Linked DNA regions of Homo sapiens: region 1 is linked to region 2. The links come from fine-mapping of genetic effects on gene expression. A gene starts in region 2. The other region holds a variant in brackets. All regions are shown on one strand. Distances are from middle to middle. Region 1 has its middle 20 kb from the start of CEL. Region 2 holds the start of GTF3C5 (general transcription factor IIIC subunit 5).

The links. PIP is the estimated chance that this variant, and not a neighbour inherited with it, causes the effect.
Region 1: its variant is the best candidate, but not a certain one, in a credible set for the expression of GTF3C5 in cerebellum (GTEx, PIP 0.63).

Annotation. Positions count from the first base shown.
Region 1 is chr9:133,080,261-133,083,162 of GRCh38, reverse strand. It overlaps the pseudogene CELP. Among named protein-coding and RNA genes, the nearest start is that of CEL, 20 kb to the right of the region's middle. The variant C/A (reference allele first, on the strand shown) is at 1,433.
Region 2 is chr9:133,029,153-133,031,993 of GRCh38, reverse strand. GTF3C5 (general transcription factor IIIC subunit 5) reads right to left here and starts at 997. Exons shown (of 11, transcript NM_012087.4): 1 at 830-997. The coding sequence starts at 982. LOC105376306 (a long non-coding RNA gene) reads left to right here and starts at 1,572. Exons shown (of 2, transcript NR_135119.1): 1 at 1,572-1,844. RefSeq lists enhancers at 977-1,236, 681-1,332, 1,567-1,816.

The DNA.
Region 1 (2,902 bases), 51 kb before region 2:
TTCTATTTTTTGAGACAGAGTCTCGCCCTGTCACCCAGGCTGGAGTGCAGTAGCGTGATCTCAGCTCACCGCAATCTCCACCTCCCAGCTTCAAGCGGTTCTCCTGCCTCAGCCTCCCGAGTAGCTGGGATTACAGGCACCCACCACCACGCCCGATTAATATTTGTATTTTTAGTAGAGACGGGGTTTCACCATGTTGGCCAGGCTGGTCTCCAACTCCTGACCTCAAGTGATCCACCCACCTCGGCCTCCCAAACTGGTGGGATTGCAGGTGTGAGCCACTGCGCCCGGCCCATAGAAATTTGTTTCAAATATTGCATGGGACATACTTACACAGCAGTTCTTGGCAGTTTATCTGAAATTCAAATGGAATTGGGCATCCTGCGTTCTACCTGGCACCTGTCCCCATAGAAATGAGCGTGAGTGCCCGGGATCTGCTGCGGGGCTGTGCTGGGCTCTTTCTCAGCCTGGCCCGAAGTTTCCAGATCTGATTGAGCGAGAGAGCAGCAGGACCTGCCCCTCTGCTGGGCTCTTACCTTCGCGGCACTCGCCACTGCCCAGCAGCAGGTGAGGCCCAACACAACCAGTTGCAGGCGCCCCATGGTGAGCATCAGCCTCTGGGTGGCCCTCCCTCTGGGCCTCGGGTATTTATGGAGCTGGATCCAAGGTCACATGCTTGTTCATGAGCTCTCAGGCACTCCCTCCCCTCTACACCCTCAGGTGCAGGGAGATCCAGTTTTCCCCAAACCCACAGTGCACCTGTGCAGGTTACCACTTACCTGGGAGCAGAGGCAGGTGGCAAGGTGGCGGGTGGTAAGGGGGATGGTGGGGCCGGGCAGGGTGCACAGTGCCCTGCCTTCTGGTTTGTTCACAGGGCTTGGTGTCACTGTCAGAGAAAAGGGCATACTTTGTCTCCATGCCCTGCCTGTCCCCTAGGTCCCCAGAGGGGCTTCACAGGGGACCAAGCACGTGACTTCTGGGACAGAGAGGGTGACATGCTGTGGGCCCCCCACCCAAGTGGCTGACCTTATCTGTACGAGCTTTTCCTGGGGCCATGGAGCAAGCAGTCCAAGCTGGGTGCGGGTCCCAGAGCAGCACAAAGCCGTCTCATTCAAGGGTGGGGAGATGTCACCATCCAGCCTGATGCATCCTGGGAGGGAGGACTAGAGGCTCAGGGGGTGTGGGTGGGGGGGTGCGGAGGCATCTAGCCCAAACTTGTGGTCTTCCCTGAGGAAAGAAAGGACACAGCCAAGGCCCTGGGGCATGCCCAGGCAGAGTGACAGGAGAGAAAAGGAGGCCAGCGGGAGGGAAGGGAGAAGGTCCTGTGAGGTTGTGGAGGAAGAGGAGGCCACTCGTATTTTCTGTGAACAGGTATTAATCCTGGAGCCAGGAAAGGCTCTGAGAAGTGAAAGAACACCACGAACAAAGTCTT[C/A]AGATGGGGCCTGTAAGCTCAGCCAGTGTGAGGTCACCCTCACCGAGACGCTCGGTGGCAGCTCCAGCCACCGCACAGCCCTCTGCAGTGATGGGAACAGGGTGAGGGCAGCCAGAGCCTTCCCACCCAACAGTCCCCCAGGAGACACTGGGGCCTGTGCTTCCCACACCAACCACACTCCCGTTCTGCCACCCCTGCGGCCGGTGCCAGGGACCGAGTGGACCTGCAGAGCCACGTCTGTCCCTCTGTCTGTCGACCACAGCCGGTGCCAGCAATTCAGGAGGCCTAGTGGGCGAGGGAGGCTGGGGAAAGGACTGGAGGGTGGGAGGAGGAGCTCGGCCACAGGAAATAAGGGGCCTGCAGGTGGCTGGGGCGCCCCAGGGCAAAGGCATTTGCCTCAGACCTTTGCCCGGCTACTCTAGTTCTGAGAACCTGCCCTAAATAAAGGAGGTAATTCTGAACTGGGAGACATGCCCTTTGTGCTCCAGGATATTCACTGCAGTGTCATTTACAGTGGCTAAGGAGGAAAGGGGAGGGCAGAGGGGAGGCAGCAGGGAGAGGAAGGAGGTGGGGGAGAGGGCTGGGGCAGGGGAGAGGGAAAGGAAGGCCCCACTTTTTATATATATACATTTTTAGAGCAGATTTAGGTTCACAGCAAAATTAGAAGAAGGTTACAGAGATTTCCCGTATGTCCTCGCCCCAACCCAGTCTCCCCCATTATCAACATCCCCCACCAGGGGGTACAGCTGTTATACTTTATGAACCTACATTGACATGTCATAATCACCCAGAGTCCACAGATTTAGGGGTTTTTTTGTTTGTTTTGAGACAGGGTCTCACTATCACCCAGGCTAGAGGGCAGTGGCACAATAACAGCTCACTGCAGTCTTGAACTCCTGGGCTCAAGGGATCCTCCTGCTTTAGCCTCTCAAGTAGCTGGGATTACAGGCGCCCGCCATCACACCCGGCTAATTTTTGTATTTTTAGTAGAGAGGGAGTTTCGCCATGTTGGCCAGGCTGGTCTCGAACTCCTGAGCTCAAGTGATCTGCCCGCCTCAGCCTCCCAAAGTGCTGGGATGACAGTTGTGAGCCACTGCGCCCAGCCCCTAACCTAGTTTTGGCCATGCTCTGAGCCCACATTCTTTGTGGAACCTCAAGATGGTATCTAAGCTCTGTACTCTGTTGAGAAGTTGGGTCTCCATTTCAAAGGCTCCCGTGTATACGCATTAAACAAATATGTATGCTTTTCTCCTATGAGACAATCTGTCAGTGATTTTTCAGTGGTCCTTCAGAGGGAGAAGGGGAAAGCTCTCCCTTGGTCCCCATAGTATCATCCTGAATAGTTTGAATGCTCTAAAACCCCCCTGGGCTCCATTGATTCATTCCTTCCTCACTCAAATCCCTTGAAGCGGCTACATTGTCTGGTCTACATACCCGGGGTTTGTCGTCATGCACCAGGAAAATTTAGGA
Region 2 (2,841 bases):
TGTTCTCCATTTTAAAGTTTAACCCCTCGTTCTTTACGCCTCCTTGCCCCTAGTTTCAGTAAACAACCCCTTCCTAGCTTCTATCACCTGCTCTGTCCTTAGTCATCCTGAGTCACCTGCTCTGTAACCATCCTTCCCACCAAAACTACTCACCCCGCCACTCAGGCCTGTGCCCCTGCCCTCTTTGAAATAACCAATCGGAATTAGCTTAGACTGTGCGGTCCAACCCTAGCCAATATGGGAAAGACACAGCAGTAGAGACTAGCTGTGTAAGAGATAGGAACCCCTTCCCCTTCCTTGTCGGTGTGCTCTCGCCATTGCTCCATCCGCAAGATGCACCCTTCTATAGAAGGAAATTTGCCTTGCTGAGAAAACTGTTTGCCAGAGTGCTGATTCTTCTTTGCGGCACCCAAAATTTATTTCCAACAAGCCTGACCAACATGGTGAAACCCCCTCTCTACTAAAAAATACAAATTTAGCCGGGCGTGGTGGCATGCGCCTGTAATCCCAGCTACTCTGGAGGCTGAGGCAGGAGAATCGCTTGAACCCTGGAGGCGGAGGTTGCAGTGAGCCAAAATCGCACCACCGCACACCAGCCTGGGAAACAAGAGCGAAACTCCGCCTGAAAAACCAACAAAAAAACAAAAACAAAAACAAAAATCCTTCCCTTCTTTGTTCTGTTGGCTCTCTTGCAGCGGCCAGAAGAGCGAGCAGCACCCTTCTGCGTAAGTAAATTTGCTAAATTTCCCTTGCTGAGAAATCCTTTGAGTGCTCGTTTTCTTTGCGACTCCGAGCTCTTATTCCAACACCGAGATTCCCAGCCCCTTACCCGGGAGACGCCTTCCTCGCCGCCCAGAGTCGGCAGCATCTTAGCCACATCACGCACCACTCCCGGGTACTCCACGCACACCATGCGTCGCTCCCGCCTCAGCTCCACGGGGACGGCGGCCCCCAGCCCCAAATCGGCCGCCTCCGCCGCCATCCCTGTGCGTCTGGCAGGGCCCGCCAGGGTCCGTCCCACAAAGTACTCCCAAAGGCCTCGCCTCAATTGTTCCGCGAAGGAATCGTTCCGGGCTCCCTCACCGCTCGCGTCATCCTAACTCCCCGGGCTCAGCAAGACGCGAGGGCCTCCAGGGAGCAAATGGCCCATGGGAGGGCCCATGTCTTCGGGAAAACGACCGCCGTGTCCTCGACTTTTTATTTAAAATTAAGCGAGTTAGTCCACCGGGCGGGGCAAGCACCAGTCTCTCCTACTAGCCAGCGAGGGACCCGGAGGATAATAAGACACAAACCTCCCTCGACTTCAGCCAATGAGAATCCGAGGGCCGAGCGAGTTTTTTTTTGAGCCAATGAGAAGTCCGGAGGAAGCTAGGTCCCACCTTCTCCTCCAGCTTCGTACGTTTTAACCAATAAAGAACTAGAGTTAACCACGTCCCAGCCCTCTTCTGGGTATTCCACCCAATGACACCTCGGGGGCGGGCCAGAGGCAGACTTCCGGCCCGCCTGCTTGGTGGGGAAAAGGTCCCGGCTGAGAATTGATTTCCGCATTGGGTCGGCCTGGTATTCTGTCGGTGTTGGCGCTTCTTCTCCCAAGCTCTTGCAGCCCCCTCGGGACTAGGTTTCCAACGGCGCTTGCGGGGGGCCTCGCGGAGGTGGATGTGGAAAAGGCGAGCGCGGGGGAACTGTGCTGTAACCATCGCCCCGCCTCCACAGAAAGCCCCGAAGCGCCGGCTCGGGGCCGAACGCGGGCATCCGGCGTTCGTCTGTTAGGCAGGCAGACATTAAGCGCCTACTGTGTGCTGGGCCCTACTCAAGACCCAGGCGGGGAGAACGGCGTCTGTCCGGTAGGCGCCCAGGGCTGCTGCAAAGCCCCGGAGCGAGGAGTGTGGCCCCTCAAACAGGGAGGAGATGAGGTCCGAGGCCGACCGAGGTCAGAGACCCGCACCCACGAAAAGGGTCCACCCGTCGGGCTGGCTGCTTCCCAGTGCCGTGGAGAGCCCCTGAAGGTTTCTTTTTTTGAGAAGGAATCTCGCTGTGTCGCCCAGGCTAGAATGCAGTGGCGCTTTCTCGGCTCACTGCAACCTCCGCCTCGGGTTCAAGCTATTCTCGTGCCTCAGCCTCCCGAATAGCTGGGATTACAGGCGCCTGCCACCATGCCCGGTTAATTTTTGTATTTTTAGTAGAGACGAGGTTTCACCATGTTGGCCAGGCTGGTCTTGAACTCTTGACCTCAAATGATCCGCCTGCTTCGGCCTCCCCAAGTCCTGGGATTACAGGCGTGAGCCACCGCGCCTGGCCCCTTGAAGGGTTTTATGCGGAGCAGTGATCCCATTCATGCATTTGAAAGACCTCTCTGGCTGTTGTGTGGAGAACAGATCAAAGGGGGAGAAAGTGAGTTCAGATAAACCAGCTCCGAGACTGCATAATCCAGTCAAGAGATGAAGGGACTGGGTTTGAGAATATTGGGAGATGAGAATCATGGCCCAGCACAGTGGCTCACGCCTGTAATCCCAGCACTTTGGGAGGCTGAGGCGGGAGGATCAGTTGAGCCCAGCAGTTGGAGGCCAGCCTGGGCAACAGGGGAAGACCCCATTTCTACCAAAAAATACAAAATTAGCCGGCCATGGTGGTGCATGCCACAGTAGTCCCAACTACTCAAAAGGCTGAGGCAGGAGGATCCTTTGAGCCCTGGAGTTGGAGGCTGCAGTGAGCTATGATCATGCCACTTGCATTACAGCTAGAAATTAGTAAGAGCAAGTGACCCCTTGGGTATGGGTACCCCGTTTCTGAAGTGATTTTTTTTTTTGAAAGACACGATCTCCCTCTGTCACCCAGGCTGGA